Linked DNA regions of Homo sapiens: all the other regions are reported to be linked to region 1. The links are microRNA targets in miRTarBase. Many come from high-throughput screens and were not tested one by one. Region 1 holds a microRNA gene; each other region holds the end of a gene's coding sequence.
What was found. Region 1 holds the annotated microRNA hsa-miR-892c-3p (CACUGUUUCCUUUCUGAGUGGA, at 1,621-1,642, opposite strand). A microRNA usually pairs through its seed, bases 2 to 8, with sites in the 3' UTR of a target mRNA and lowers its output. Matches are read on the target gene's strand: a 7mer-m8 pairs with bases 2 to 8, a 7mer-A1 pairs with bases 2 to 7 and ends in A, and an 8mer does both.

Region 2: miRTarBase lists TMED2 as a target of hsa-miR-892c-3p. Seed matches in the 3' UTR shown: 8mer at 1,969-1,976.
Region 3: the mRNA of UBE2D1 is a reported target of hsa-miR-892c-3p. Seed matches in the 3' UTR shown: 7mer-A1 at 2,801-2,807.
Region 4: the mRNA of SLC25A37 is a reported target of hsa-miR-892c-3p. Seed matches in the 3' UTR shown: 8mer at 1,052-1,059.

Annotation. Positions count from the first base shown.
Region 1 is chrX:145,991,140-145,995,398 of GRCh38, forward strand. It overlaps MIR892C (microRNA 892c), which reads right to left and starts at 1,687; the gene lies at 1,611-1,687. MIR890 (microRNA 890) reads right to left here and starts at 3,212; the gene lies at 3,136-3,212. It overlaps MIR888 (microRNA 888), which reads right to left and starts at 3,721; the gene lies at 3,645-3,721.
Region 2 is chr12:123,596,113-123,600,112 of GRCh38, reverse strand. TMED2 (transmembrane p24 trafficking protein 2) reads right to left here. Exons shown (of 4, transcript NM_006815.4): 4 at 1,531-3,508. The coding sequence ends at 3,384. Among named protein-coding and RNA genes, the nearest start is that of DDX55, 4.0 kb to the left of the region's middle.
Region 3 is chr10:58,368,060-58,372,059 of GRCh38, reverse strand. It overlaps UBE2D1 (ubiquitin conjugating enzyme E2 D1), which reads right to left. Exons shown (of 7, transcript NM_003338.5): 7 at 1,312-3,340. The coding sequence ends at 3,295. Among named protein-coding and RNA genes, the nearest start is that of TFAM, 15 kb to the left of the region's middle.
Region 4 is chr8:23,571,146-23,575,145 of GRCh38, forward strand. SLC25A37 (solute carrier family 25 member 37) reads left to right here. Exons shown (of 4, transcript NM_016612.4): 4 at 190-4,000. The coding sequence ends at 710. Among named protein-coding and RNA genes, the nearest start is that of SLC25A37, 44 kb to the left of the region's middle.

The DNA.
Region 1 (4,259 bases):
ATGATTTCCAGGACCAGGAGAGAACAAGTTTGTTCCTGATTTCGCTTCTTCTTTTGGGAAATATCTTTATCTTCTGTATCCCGTAGGTGTTCACATTGTAGCAAACGACCATGAAACTTATTTTGAGGATGACTGAGTTCTAGCTAACCACCAAGGATCTCCTGAGATCAATGAGGACATCTCAAGGTGCCTGTAACTCTATACCCTCACCAGTCTGAGGGCCACCACAAACTTGTACTTCGTGACTCTTATTCCACCCAGAGAAAAAACCAATTACATGTAATCTAAGTTACTGGCACTCTATTAGTCAATTGTCATGCTGCTAATAAAGACATACCAAAGACTGGGTAATTTCTATTGAAAAAAGAGGTTTAATTGACTCACAGTTCAGCATGGCTGGGGAAACCTCAGGAAACTTGCAATTACGGTAGAAGGGGAAGCAAACACGTCCTTCTTTACATGGCGGCAGGAATGAGAAGTGTTGAGCAAAGCGGGTGAAAGCCCCTTATAAAACCATCAGATCTTGTGAGAACTCACTATCATGAGATCAGCAGCATGGGAGTAACCGCCCCCATGATTCAATTACCTCCCACTGGGTCCCTCCCATGACACATGGGGATTATGGGAACTATGATTCAAGGTGAGATTTGGGTGGGGACACAGCCAAACCATATCAGACACCTTTCTGGGAATAGCCCTGAACACAGCATGGTCGAAAGGGGAAGTGCTGCCCCATCTTGCATTTTCATACCCTGCAGCTTTCATCACTCCTCTGAGCACGGTATGATGCCTGAATCCTGAACTTATTTATTCATCAGTTCAAAATAATGCCCAGCCCACAAGCCCCCAACTTGCATGTCTCCCTCAGTGCCCTCTCACCTGCTCTATGTTTACCTGGATGATTGCCCAGACCAGGAGAAAACAAGCTTGTTCCCGTTTTCTATTCTTCAACTAGGAAGTATCTTCATCTCTTCTATCACTTTCTTCTTTAACATGATGGAGTCTACATCATTAGGAATGCACCAGTAGAATTATCTTGAGGATGCCTGAGGTCCATGTGGCCAAATAGGATCTCCTGGCATCAGGGAAGGCAGCTCAAGGCCCTTGGAACTCCACATCAGGGGTCTACAGGCAACTATATGCTTGTACTTGGTAAGCCTTAGTCCACTCAGAGAGGAACTAGTTACATATAATCTAAGTGACTGGCACCTTTCTGGAACATATTATGGACGAATGGGGAGGGGCTACTCCATCGTGCAATGTGAATCCCCATCCTAGAGAATGTCCAGCCCACTGCCCTCCATCATGTATGTTTCCCTCAGCAAGAGCACTCTCACTTGGCTTCATGTTTACCCAGATGGTTGCCAGGACCACGAGAGAACAAGCTTGTTTTTCTGTTCTTCTATTAGGAAGTATCTTCACGTCTTCTATCCTTCTCTTCTCTATCATATAGGTATTCTCATTATTAGGAATGAACCACTGAAATCATCTAGAGGATGTCTGAGGTTCAGGTGGCCAGCTAGGATCTCCTGGCATCATTGAAGACAACTTAGGGCTCCAGCAACTCCAACTCATCGCCTGTCTGAAGACCACCACACACTTGTACTTGGTAAGCCCTACTCCACTCAGAAAGGAAACAGTGACATGTAATCTAAGTGACTGGCACCTTTCTGAATAGGGCACTGCCCACAGCACGACTGATAGTGGAGGTGCTGCCCCATCACCCACCATCACGCACTGCAGGTTTCATCACTCCCCTCAACACAGCAGGCTGCCTGAGCCCTGAACACATTTATTAAGTCCTAGAGAAGTTCCAGCCCACTGCCCTCCAACTTGGCATGCCTGCCTCAATGAAGACCTTCTCACTTGATTTATGTTTCCCTGGATGATGGCCAAGACGAGAAGAAAAAAAATCTTGTTCCCGTTCTCTCTTCTTCTTTTAGGAAGTATCTTTATCTCTTCTATTATTACCTTATCTAACCTGTAGGTGCTCACATTGTTAGAAATGGATCATTAAAATCATCTTGAGGATCCCTGAGTTCCAGGTGGCTTCCAAATCTCTCCTGGGATCAATGAAGGCAGTTGAAGGTGCTTGCAGGTCTGTCTCCTCACCAATCTGAACGCCATCACAAAATTGTACCTGGAGAATCTTGCTCTACCCAGAAAGGAGCTGGAAACATCTAATCTAAGTGACTGACCCCTTTTGGAGTAGGGCACTGCCCACAACATGGCTAATTGTGGGGGTGCTGTCCCATCTTGCATGTTCTCCCCCTGTAGCTTCCATCACTCCTGAGCACAGCATGATGCCTGAACCCTGAATTTATTTATTCAACAGTCCTGGATCATGTCTAACCCACTGCCCTCCAATGTACATGCCTCCCTAAATGAGGAACCCCTCACCTGCTCTATGTTTACCTGGGTGATCGCCAAGACCAGGAGAAAGCAAGATTGTTCTCATTCTATTTTTCTAGTAGGAATTATCTTCATCTTGTCTTTCTCATCTATAACCTGCATGTGTTCATGTTGTTAGGGACAGACGATTTAGAATATCTCGACGATGCCTGAGGTCCACATGGCCAACTAAGGTCTCCTGGTATCAGGAAAGGTACCTCAAGGCTCTTGAAACTCCACCCTATCATGGGTCCAAAGGCCACTACAAACTTATACTTGTTGAGCCTTACACTACCAAGGAAGAAACCAGTGATGTATAATCTAGGAAACTGGCACATTTCTAAGTAGGACACTGCACACAGCATGTCTGATAGCGGAGGTGCTGGCCCATCTTGCAAGGTCAACCCCCGTCCAGGAGAATGTCCAGTCTGCTGCCCTCCATGACGCATGTCTCACTCAATGAGACATGCTCACTGCTCCATATTTGCCCAGATGGTTGCCAGGACCATGAGAGAACAAGCTCGTTTTCTGTTCTTCTATTAGGAAGTATCTTCATTTCTTCTATCTTTCTATTCTCTGAAAAATAGGTATTTCCATTGTTAGAAATGCATCATTGAAATCACCTTGAGAACACCTAAGGTTCAGGTGGCCAGCTAGGATCTCCCGGCCTTACTGAAGACAACTAAAGCCTCCAGCAACTCCACTGCATCACCTGTCCGAAGGTCACCATGAACTTGTACTTGGTAAGACTTACTCTACTCAGAAAGGGAATAGTTACATGTAATCTAAGCAACTGATGCCTTTCCAAGTAGGGCACTTCCCACAGCATGTCTGATTGTAGAGGTGCTGCCCCATCATCCACCATCGTGCACTGCAGCTTTCATCACCCCACTCAACACAGCAGGATGCCTGAACCCTGAACTTAATCTTAATTCCTAGAGAATTTCCAGCCCACTGCCCTCCAACTTGGCATGCCTGCCTCAGTGACGACCTTCTTATCTGATTTATGTTCACCTGGATGATGGCCAAGACAAGAAAAGATTGTTCCTGTTTTCTCCTTTTAGGAAGTAACTATCTTTTCTGTCATTGCCTTCTCTAATTTGTAGGTGCTCACGTTGTTAGAAATGATCATCTTGACGATGCCTGAATTCCAGGTGGTTTCCAAGGTTCTCCTGGGATCAATGAAGGCAGCTCAAGTTGCTTGCAGGTCTACCCCCTCACCAGTCTGAGGACCACCACAAAAGTGTACTTGGTGAGCCTTCCTTCACCCAAAGAGGTGTCAGTCACATGTAATCTAAGTGACTGACAGCTTTTTGAGTAGAGCACTGCCCACAACATGGCTAATTGTGGAGGTGCTGTCGCATCTTGCGTGTTCTCCACCTGTAGCTTCCATCACTCCTCTGAGCACAGCATGATGTCTGAACCCTGAACTTATTTATTCATCAGTCCTGGATCATGTCTAGCCCACTGCCCTCCAAGGTATATGCCTCCCTAAGTGAGGAATCTCTCACCTACTCTATGTTTATCTGGATGATTGCCAGGACCAGAAGAGAGCAAGATTGTTCCCATTTTCTATTTTTCTAGTAGGAATTATCTTCATCTTGCCTTTCTGATCTATAACCTGTAGGTGCTCATGTTGTTAGGGACAAGCCACTTAACTTATCTTGAGGATGCCTGAGGTCCACATGGCCAACTAAGATCTGCTGGTCTCAGGGAAGGTACCTGAAGGCTCTTGCAACTCTACACTATCATGGGTCCAAAGGCCACTACAAACTTATACTTGGTGTGCCTTACTCTACCTGGAAAGGAACTAGTGACATATAATCTGGGCGACTGACACATTTCTGGGCAGGGCACTGCACACAGCA
Region 2 (4,000 bases), not on the chromosome of region 1:
GGCAGGAGAATTGCTTGAACCCGGGAGGCGGAGGCTGCAGTGAGCCAAGATCGCGCCACCGCACTCCACCCTGGGTGACAGAGAGAGACTGTCTCCAAAAAAAAAAAAAATGTATCTGACCTCCTTTGTTTTGCTGGTAGGTTGTAAGACCCCATTCCAGGAAGGGTTCTTTCCCCTATCCAGAAGGAAAGAATCCAGACAGGCCTCGCTGGGCTTCCCCACTCAGTCTATGAGCATTAGATCATGCCCTTCTTGTCCAGTCCTATTTCTACTCAGCTGTGCATATTTTGTTGAGCCTAAGCATAAAAATAGTTTTCCCTGTAACTTTGGGTCTTAATTCTGAAGGTTCCTTTGTCATGTAAAAGCATGACCGAATAAATTTGTATCACTTTCCTCCTATTAATCTGCCTATTTTCAGTTGAATTTTTAGAGAAACCTGAGAGCAAAGGGGAAGTTTTCCCTTACACTCCCTTACATTCCACTTGGACTTTTGAAATCAACTTCTGTTACCTTCCTTTCTGTATCACTGAAACTCCTACCTTGATTTATGTTCCCTTCTTAGCATTTACCATTATCTCTTTCTCGCCACACACACACAAACACACACACACACACACAAAACTTATTAGGTTCATCTCTGCCACCAAAATGTAAAACCCACACTAATAGGGTCTTTTCTCTATCTTCTTTATCCCAAGGACTATCACTGTAGCACACAGCAATCACTCAAATATTTGTGGGATTGATAAATGGGAATACAACTCATGCAGACTGCAGTCATCTCAAATTAAGTAAAAGACAACAGCCTGAAGCCACATTTTCAGTGAAATGATCATCACATTCTCAAAACACCTTTGACAACTTTTATAAAATGGGACTTCGGCTAGGCACGGTGGCTCATGTCTGCAATCCCAACACTTTGGGAGGCTGAGGCAGGAGGATCACTTGAGCCCAGGAGAATGAGGCCAGCCTGGGCAACATACAGGAGACTCTGCCTCTACAAAAATAATTTTTTAATTAGCTAGGCGTGGTGGTGCATGCCTGTGGTCCCAGCTACTCGGGAGGCTGAGATGAGAGGATCACTTGAGAGGTTAAGGCTCCAGTGAGCCATGTTTGTGCCACTGCACTCCAGTCCAGGTAACAAAGCAAGACCCTGTCTTTAAAAAACAAAAAATGTAGTCCCAGCTACTTGGAGAGCTGAGGTGGTAGGATCACTTGAGCCCGGGAGGTTGAGGCTTCAGTGAGCAGAGATCAAGCCAACCTGGGAACAGAGTGAGATCCTGTCTCCAAAAAAAGAAAAGGTGGGAGACTTCACAGACAGTTCTGAAAGCAAAGGCACAGGGAAATTACATATCTGTGTGTGTCTTCTGGGCTCTACTACCTACTAGTTTTCTGACCTTAAGACCCTTTCCAAGCCTGTTTTCCTCCTCACTTCCAAAATGGTTTTACCCAAGGTAATGGCAGTTTTGAAGCATGAATAAGACAGACCAAGTAAAGTGCTTAGTACTAGATCGAGACATTACACAGTACTCAAGAAATGGTAGCTACTTTTATTACCAGCAGGCCGTTAGTTTCACAGAGGAAGAACAGTTTCTACAGGTGGTGATCTAGTCTCCGGTTCCACCTTTCACTCTTTTCTGTGGCCTTGGGCAAATCATTTAATCTGTCTTTGAAGCTATTTCCCACATTCATAAACTACGTGGGCAAGTGAAAATAATTCAACCCTTTTTTCCCAAATAGAAAAATACTTAAGATTTTAGCACTGATCCATCAGAGAAGCCACACTGGAAAACCTACGCAGAAACTAAAACTTGGTACCATTCACTATCCTCAAGTTTATAGAATTAAAAAGTAACAGACGTAATAGGTATAAATACTCAGAAAACATGAACATGTCTCATGTCAAATAAGAACAGAAAGTTGGTGTGTAAAAAATGTGGATTAGCTGTCAATATATAAAACACAGAATACTGTTTTTAAAAAGAATTGTTTATTTACCGAACCTGGGGCATATTAGATACAACCAATTTTAAATTTACATCTTTTAAATCAGTTTTGAAGTGTTTCACACACACAAAAAACTTGGCATGCAACAGTTGTCCTAAGGTGAAAGTCACCTCATTAATAAACTGTTGCAAGTGTTCTCACCCAAGGTGGAAGTATGGTTTATCCTGAACATGAAAACCTGTAACAAATTTAAATTAATTATATAAAACTCGTTACTTGTAGTTTTGCCCTTGCAAAGATCCAAAAAAAAAAAAAAAAGCACAAGTAACTAATATGTATCAGTCACAACATAATCCTGGATCATCCCCATACCAAAACCGGATGCTCTTTTAATTTTAAACCCATCATCAGAGAACAAGAGAAAGTAATTTCATTTTACACAAAACAAGATTCACATGTGCCAAAAAAGAAAGACCCAAAAGAAACAAAAACCAAAACCCTAATGCTGACACTGATGGTCAGTACCCTGAACAGTGGCCCAAAGGCCACTGATCAAAAATAAAATAGTGGCTGTATATCAATGAAATGAAATCCAAGAAGCTTTAACCCTTTGGCATCAGAAATCCAGATTTTTCCAATTATGTAAATGCTTATTTCTTACATGCCAAGAGTGGGAGAAGTGAATGTGCCAATGTGGAAAGAAAAAAAGCCACCACTCACTGGGACACCCAGAGAATTGGCTTTAACAGACAATTAGGGGGTTAGGCAGAAACCCAGAAATGGTTATTAGCTGCTTGTGTCATCAATTTAAGTGGAGATGACTGAGTCCTAAGGTACAATGTAAAAATGTATGTGGGAAAATGTATGCTGAGTCGTAGTTTTAAAGCAAAACAAGAAAACAAAGTATGAAAGTACCCAGCCTGGCAGCATACACCCAAGTCAGAGAGCTCTGCCATTAGGACGGGCAGAAACCGTCAAGATTCATACTGCTGTTTCTCATAAGGACTCAACAAAAATGAATCTTTAGTGACTTGAACCATAGACTGAAGGAATCCAAAGAATGCAGTCATTTTAGTAAAGTACTATCAGGCTTTGTGCTGATTTCCTGAACAAACTGCATTATATTATGAAAACAAAAGGAAAAGAAGAAATAATAAAAACTATACTCCCATATTTCACTTACAGTGTTTGAGTTCCTGGAAGGACCTATATAATGGAGGCAGCATTCAAACAAGAAATTATGCCAATCAACTGTCAAATTTTCACTATAATTTTCCTAAAAAGGCGTTTTTCCCCCAATATCTATTAATCTCAAAGAAACATAAGTTGTGAATGTACAGTTCAGAAAATAAAAATGGAGAAACTAATGACATTATTATGACCAAGGTGTTTGGTAAACAGTGAATTCTGAGTTGGGATCATCAGGAAGAGGCTTTTTAAACAACTCTCCGGACTTCAAAAAATCTCTTCAGGTAGTAGATCTGTCCCAATGTCATGGCAACTAGAACAAGAGCTTCAAAGAAGGACCAAAGGACCACTCTGCTGTTTGTGTTGTCGTTGACTGTTGAGGACAAAACAAACAAACAAAATTTAACAATTCTCCCCCAAAAAGACATAGGCATCATAAATATTTTAGTCTTCACTCTGTGTGAAAGTAATATTGTGTACACCACTCATAGAATAGATGTTCCTCAACTTACGATGGGGTTACATCCCAATAAACCCAGCTTATGTTGAAAATACATAAGTCAAAAATATATTTAATACACCTAACCTAGCAAACATCATAGCTTAGCCTAGCCTACGTAAAACACGATCAGAACACTTACATTAGCCTACAGTTGAGCAAAAGCATCTAACAACACAAAGATTATTTTATAATAAAGTGTTGTGTATCTCATACACGTTAAACTGCATTTTATTATTATTTTCTATTTTATTTATCAAGTTAGTGAACACTGCACTGAAAGTAAAAAACAGAATGGTTGCATGGGTACTTGATGCTCAGTTTCTTCTGAATGCACATCACTTTTGCACCATCATAAAGCTGAAA
Region 3 (4,000 bases), not on the chromosome of region 1:
GACACATTACTCAGTTCAAAAACAGAGAGAGTAGAAATGACTAGTTATCTACCTATAAGAACTTTTGTAAGTGAAATTAGATGAGACTCTACCTGCTGCCCTATTTGTGCAACACAACCATCAGAATAAAAGAGAAGCATTATAAGACCTTTCATAAATAATCTGCATTACATTTTACAGCTATTAAATTGTGATTAAGCCTCTGCTTTAAAGAAAAAAAAATTGTGAAAATCCTACTTTACAGCTGAAAAGTGATAAAACTAATTTTTTAAAAATCAGATTTTTTATTGTAGTAATAATCACTTAAAAGACTGAAACAAACAAAGATAAACAGTACTTTCAACAATCTGAATACAATGAAGCTCTGTTTTTATGGCCATGGCTAAAGCACTGATCACATTTTTCATGGCTGGTCCTAAGAAGATAGAGTAACAGGACTGATGATTCTACTGCAGAGCTCAAATTTTAAAGCATTATCAACTGGGCTGGGCTTTTGTACAGTTCAAAATGACTACCAATAAACAGACATGATATAGTTTCATGACCAATAATTTCTTTTAATTTGGGAGGAAAATTAATTTCCTTAATCTCTCCATTTAAAAAATACAGAACTGTGGGAGAGCAGGATCTTGACAAACATCAATGACTGAATCATTAGATAGATCACTGTGATAAATAAGAAAAATTTAAAACTGCAATGTATTATTTTTTTCTTATGAAAAGTAACTTTTGAACGTTAACTCTTAGAGTTGTCCTTGATATGCAGTTCATTTATAATTTTTAATTTTCCCTATCAGCGTTTAAAAGGGGTGAAACAGGGAAATAATGCAAAAATTAATAAATAAGGTTGACGGAGGCATATATGTAAAGCTTGTACTTCAGGAATTGTACGCTTTTGAGATAGTTGGAGGATGGTGGTGAGGCTGCCCCTTACAACCCATGTCACTGATGTGGGTAACTGCTGTATATGGCAGTTATAAGCGTTCAGAATCCAATTTGAACATGGTTTTCAACTATGCAACTTCAAGAAGTGGGATCCTAAATCCCCAAAAGACTACCTATTTCTCTCACTCCAAGGAAGTCCTTAAATTAATGCTTAATCCACAAAAGGCCCTGACTTTTATTCTACAGTTTTAAAAGGTAACTGATGTTCTCCTTGTTAGAGTTAAGCAAAAATAATATACCCAAAATGGTGTTCTGACCGATCATGACGCCACTATGGAACTCAAGGTTTTTAGCTAATTATGAGAACTTCTGCTTACTCCTCAAGTCCAGTACAATCCAGATGTAAGCAAAGGCAAACAAGTTAGGCAAGTTTCAAAAACTTTAATAAAGAAAAAAAAGAAGACACTTCCAAAAATAAATGCCACACAAATGAAAGTTGTTTTTTTTTTTTGTTTAAAGTGAAGATATTCAAGAAACAAAACCCTTTACTATCAAAATATACTAAATATTTAAATCTAGTGATGTTGAGTGTTCAAATTCAGGGCAAATGTAGCTTATAATAATATAGCTAAGTAGAATTTTTCATGATATGGCTGTTTTAAGACATCATTTTATAGATTTACTTTTTAAGCCTATATTTTCTTAAACATCCATTTCACAATTCATTTAATTATTTTACATTCATTTATAAAAACACATATTTTCTAACAATAGGTTATTTTGTGCTTTAATAATAATGAACCATGACAAAATACTCAAGTGATTTAAATGCTTTGCTAATGACTACACCCATCACATATTCTTACATACTTCTACAGCTACTGCAATAATCAGAAGGGCTACAACTGTTCTTAAAAATGACACTCACTCAAGGTTGACAAGCATGCTAAACATTAAAGAGATGTATTTTTCCCCAAGTTAAAACATTAAAACTTTCTAGTTTTCTTTAAAATCTATAAAGATAACCTGCTTATTTAAATCACTTTTCGATGGCAACTTATAAAAACAGAGGGAGGCATAATTTTAGAACTTCCTTTGTAACTTCTATAGTAAAAAAAAAAAAAAAGTTTTTCAAATTGTGATGGCATTAAATTCCATTTTAGAAATTCTAGATTTTAAAATGTTAAGAAATGTAATGTCAATTACATCAGGGTGGGGGCATTTTAATGAATTAATCTAGTGACTGTGCAGGTCTATAAAGACCTTTCTTTTGGATGGGTGATACTGCCTTATACTCATTTCAGTACTTTTAACAAATAATCCATTTAGATATAATCCAAGACAAACCCCAAATTACTCTAAATTCTCCTCTACAGCAAGGGATCAACATATATTATCTTATAGACTGACAATTTAGTAAAGAGATACTAACCTAAAACAATAAAATTTATATAACTAATGGTGACTAATGGCAAACAAAATAGATCTGATTTTCACAATTTGGATGTAATTTTCATGCAAAATTTTAGAGTTTTGATCCTTACTTATATTTTTATTTTTTTAAGTAATCAAGACAAATAGTAGAAAAAGCATTTTATTTATATGGAAAAAGCTACAGTAAGATCTGTAAAAGGTGTCAATATAATATTGCCTATACAGGAAAAAATTCAAATGTGAATAGCAACAAATAAAAGTTACACATCTTCCTACTTAGCAGTGCAATTAATTCACATTGCAATAAAGTTAAGTCAAGTATAACAAAATCAAAACAAGTGTTTCTCCATAATCAGTATGCTGAGAATTACAGTGTAAAGATCATTTCAGATTTAAGAAATCTGCAATCAATCTACAGAATATCCTAAGACAAGGGAGACACAGTTAATTCACTTAATTATCAGCCGTTGGGGTTTTTCAATACTGTTCACAGGAAAAAAGTAATGAGTTGACATACATGTAAATAGAATATATTTAGTCTATACAGTAAAAAAATACAAATTATAAAGTGAGCTAACAAAGAATGAAATCTGAATACAGATTTATAAAACTGACATCTTAGACAACACATACAGTATTTCTCATGTAAAAACATCTAGTTTCAGCAAAAAATAATTTGGTTGCTTTTCAGCTGCATTGTAGATCTTGTAAGCTGAAGATGCAGATGTCCAAGTATCTTAAAAACCATAATAAATGTCTTTCTCAATGCATACAAAATGATAAATGCTCTCATCACAGTCTTAAGGGTATTTTTGGAAGTTTGTTTTGTCTTGCTTCAGAAACACATTTAAAATGGGTAAAAATCAAATGGTTTCATGGTACAATGAAACAGTAAACAGTGCTCAATTTACTGCTAATGTTGAAAAAAACCTAGATTTTACAGTACTCTGGTATATATGAAAATGTTTTTGATTTTTACATTGCATATTTCTGAGTCCATTCTCTTGCATGTCTGTTGTATCTGTAGATACACAAAAAGGATATAGTAAAAACATACAAAATTAATATTTCAGAAGCATCTGTCTAATAAAACTATATATTCTACCTTCTTATACTTAATTGCAATAATCACACATATATCAATTACTGGGTCAATGTGACTTAGGTTCATGCAGAAATAAAACAGGAAAAATAATTTTTTAACTCATGGATTTCTCTGCAACCTATATGAAAATGTATCCAAATACACAAAAATCAAAATGCAGAAACCAGCTTCTAACAGAAATTTACAAAAGCCAATCCTGAAGGAGCATTATCTACAAATTGCAAATGAACCTACAGTACTAGCAAGATGAAGCAGCTTGAGAATTAGGTCAGTTTGGATGGGTACGAGAGAACTCCTCTTCCTTGGAGAAGATAAGCAATATATATTTAATACTTTCCAATGATTAAATTCTTTCATTTTTAATTTATCACCTAGAATATATACATCTATTTTTCAAATACAGAGTATATACTATTGAACAGTAAGTGGGAAGGAACAAGATTTATCATAAAAGGTCTAACAGAGTTCTCAAAGAAAGGTTTACTCCATTGGAAAAAGATAAACAATATACATATAACAACCATAATCAAATTGACTTAAAACATATTGATAATATTCGTGTTTTGGCATACTATA
Region 4 (4,000 bases), not on the chromosome of region 1:
GGACTGCCGGGAGCTGGCCCTCCGCGGCTGCTCAGACTAGGGCTGTGTGTGCTGGCTCTCGCCTGTTTCCGGTGTCTAACTGGCTTGTTTCTCTTTATGGCTTGGCTTCATTCCGACCTGGGGTGGGGCCACATCCAACCCACTGCCCACTGGCTGTCCGTCTGGCCTGCCCCGCGGTTCCAACCACAGTGGTGAAGCAGCGCTTGCAGATGTACAACTCGCAGCACCGGTCAGCAATCAGCTGCATCCGGACGGTGTGGAGGACCGAGGGGTTGGGGGCCTTCTACCGGAGCTACACCACGCAGCTGACCATGAACATCCCCTTCCAGTCCATCCACTTCATCACCTATGAGTTCCTGCAGGAGCAGGTCAACCCCCACCGGACCTACAACCCGCAGTCCCACATCATCTCAGGCGGGCTGGCCGGGGCCCTCGCCGCGGCCGCCACGACCCCCCTGGACGTCTGTAAGACCCTTCTGAACACTCAGGAGAACGTGGCCCTCTCGCTGGCCAACATCAGCGGCCGGCTGTCGGGTATGGCCAATGCCTTCCGGACGGTGTACCAGCTCAACGGCCTGGCCGGCTACTTCAAAGGCATCCAGGCGCGTGTCATCTACCAGATGCCCTCCACCGCCATTTCTTGGTCTGTCTATGAGTTCTTCAAGTACTTTCTCACCAAGCGCCAGCTGGAAAATCGAGCTCCATACTAAAGGAAGGGATCATAGAATCTTTTCTTAAAGTCATTCTCTGCCTGCATCCAGCCCCTTGCCCTCTCCTCACACGTAGATCATTTTTTTTTTGCAGGGTGCTGCCTATGGGCCCTCTGCTCCCCAATGCCTTAGAGAGAGGAGGGGACGGCACGGCCGCTCACCGGAAGGCTGTGTGCGGGGACATCCGAGGTGGTGGTGGACAGGAAGGACTTGGGAAGGGGAGCGAGAAATTGCTTTTTCTCTTCCTCCCTGGGCAGAATGTAGCTTTTCTGCTTCACTGTGGCAGCCTCCTCCCTGGATCCTTAGATCCCAGAGGAGGGAAGAAAATTTGCAGTGACTGAAAACAGTAAAAAAAAAAAAAAAAAAAAAAAAAAAAAAAAAAAAAAAAAAAAATTTATGTATATAAAAGTTGCATTACACAGTACAAAATAGATGGATAATGTTTATCCTTTATTTTTCTATGTAGAAGTTTTTGAATTTGTGTGTGTGCTTGTGCGTGTCTACACCTAGTATTACGGCTGGGACTCTCCAGCTGTTTTTGTTGTTGTTATGTTTTTAAGAGGGTTGAATTCTTCCATCAGGTGAACGAAAAAGGCAACAAAGTAATAAATCAGTGAATGTGGCCGGCAGCTGTGTTTAGCCCCTCCAGATGGAAGTTTCACTTGAATGTAAAATAATAAAGTTTATATTTTGAATTTCTCTTTTCATGGGGGAAAAAAGGTACGTTAAAAAAATCAAAATAATGATATGTCACTTGCAGCTACCTTTTTTTTTCTTTTAAATTCAATCAGCCACCTTCATGTGCCTTTTTCCTTTGTCTTTCCCCAAAATTCCAGGACCAGAGATCTGGCCCTGGCCTATTTTCTCTTGCTGTGTACACACACGCACACATGCTGGGTGGCAGGATCTCGCCCGCTGGAGGGTGGTGGAGCCCAGTAGAATTGGGGTGACTGGGCATAAACCTGCTGAGACTGCTTCCTTCCCTGGTTGTGAGTGATGTGAATGCCTGCCTTCCCCGGTCAGCACTTAGAAGCCCTTGATAGGCAGCATTTGGCGACTTGTGGGGCAGGTGTTTGGGATAAATCCTACCTTCATCCTAGGACTTATTTCTGCATCAGCCTTTTAACTCAGGCACTTCAGGTAACGTGATCTATGTGTGTTTTGACTGAATCTCATCTCCTGTGTTTCCCTGTGCAGTCTAGGGAAGCATGTCTCCAGTCTTTGTCCCTGTCTTGTCCCAACCATTAATTCTCATGTCACAGCTTCTCACTGCATGTGACAAGAGCCAGGCCTATCTGCTAGGGCCCTGCGGCTGAGGTCTGACCTGGACCCTCATGCCCGAGTCGGAAGACCCCTCTCCAGAAGCCATTCTGCATCCTTGTCTGCTCTGCGTCACCCGAGAACACAGGCTTCGCAGCCTCGCTTTCTGAAATGGTGTGTGCCGAGTCAGATTGCCGCTCAGAGAAAATACAAGCCCGTTTTCCCTAGCTGTGCCATTTGGTGCTCTGCCAGGCTGCCGTGCAAGGGAATACCGACGAGACGAGCTGCACTGTCTCTGATTTGGAGCCCTCACCGGAGCTTGTCTTTAAAAATGAGCAGGAAGCTCATGTATGTTTGCATTTCAGTGAGCCGGGTCCTGACCTGCCGCCACCCATCACGGTCAGCGTGGTGCATCTTACCGAGGAGGCGCAGGCCTGGATTCTTTTGAGTGGTGCTACTGCCTAGGAAGTAACACGTGGAGAATTTCCATCTTGGGACCATGCACACAGTGCCTTGGGGAGTAGATTTTGCCCTAATAGCGATGAAGAATTTTATCAGTCAGTGGAGTTCCTTTTTCAGATCAGGGATGGGAAAGAGCCAAACTGGGTACCTCCCACGTGTGCCCCGTGAACAGCCCTTTGCAGCTGGGCTGTGGGGCTTGGCTGCTGCCCTGTCCCATCTGGCAGTTAACGCCTTCTCCCTGCTCTGCCCCCCACTCCCCAAAACCAGTTGCAGCCTCAACCCACATGGGGATGTAGAAAGCCGTAAAGTCCACGCTACTGTTGAAAATGTTTACATCTCCGCTCTCAACCTGCCTTGGGTTCGTGTTAAATGGTGTTAAATTCTGCAAATGGAGGGGAAAAAAATCAAATTCTAAATTTCAAAGTAGAATTTAAAGCAAATTTGTAAAAAAATTATCCTACCACCCCTTTTGGTCCACTTAAGATATGCCACGCTGAAGCAAGGTATTTCCTACTGGATTTTGCTTTCACTGGTGTTTAGAAAATAAACTTGATTTCTCTAGGAGCACTCCTTTGGTTAGAGGGATGCAAGAAGGAGAGGTGAAGGTGGCGTGTGGTGGCTCATGCCTGTAATCCCAGCACTTTGGGGAGGCCGAGGCAGGCGGATCACTTGAGGCCAGCAGTTTGAGACCAGCCTGGCCAACATGATGAAACCCCATCTCTACTAAAAATACAAAAAATTAGCTGGGCATGGTGGCAGGCACCTGTAATCCCAGTTACTTGGGAGGCTGAGGCAGGAGAATTGCTTGAACCCAGGAGGTGGAGGTTGCAGTGAGCTGAGATTGTGCCACTGCACTTCAGCCTGGGCGACAGAGTGACTCTGTCAAAAAGGAAAGGCAAAAACCGGACCCTGGAGCTCTGTGGGCCCTGATTGCAGGCCCCTCCCTGTGTGATGAGGGATGAGTCAGCTTGGGGAGCCACTTGGCCAGCCTGCATGCCTGGTCATCAGGAGGTTGAGAAAAGCCTTGAAAGTTGTGAAGCACTGAGCAGATACAAGTGTTTGTTAATTTTGTAGAAATTAACTTTCCCATCTGGCCTTTATCTCCAAAGTTGGTATTGTTGCTCCACGCAGACTGCAGTCCGGTTTCTTATTGTGACTTTGACAATGCAAAGTGCAAAATAGGAAGAGGCCTCCCCACCCCACTATCCCACCCTGGTGACCAATTCAGTGTAACCTTTGCACGTACTCAGTCATTGGTGTCTTTGGAGTGACATCTGCAGCCAGTTAGTGCCACCTGAGTACAGCACTCGTACTTTTACATGATGTGTGTGTGAGTAGCTCTTCTGTCCAAACCATGATTTGAGGTTCAACTACCTGTAGATCAAAGCTTTATTTTAGAACGATAAACTGATTTTTTCCAAATGGGTGAAATCTTCTCCCCATGACTATGTTTTCTTAACTTTGCATTGAATCTATTTACTGGGTTACATTCTATGTGTAGTTTGCTTTCTTCATTTTTTTTTCTTTTAAAATGCTCATGTCTTATTCCAAGCACCTTCCTCCAAAGT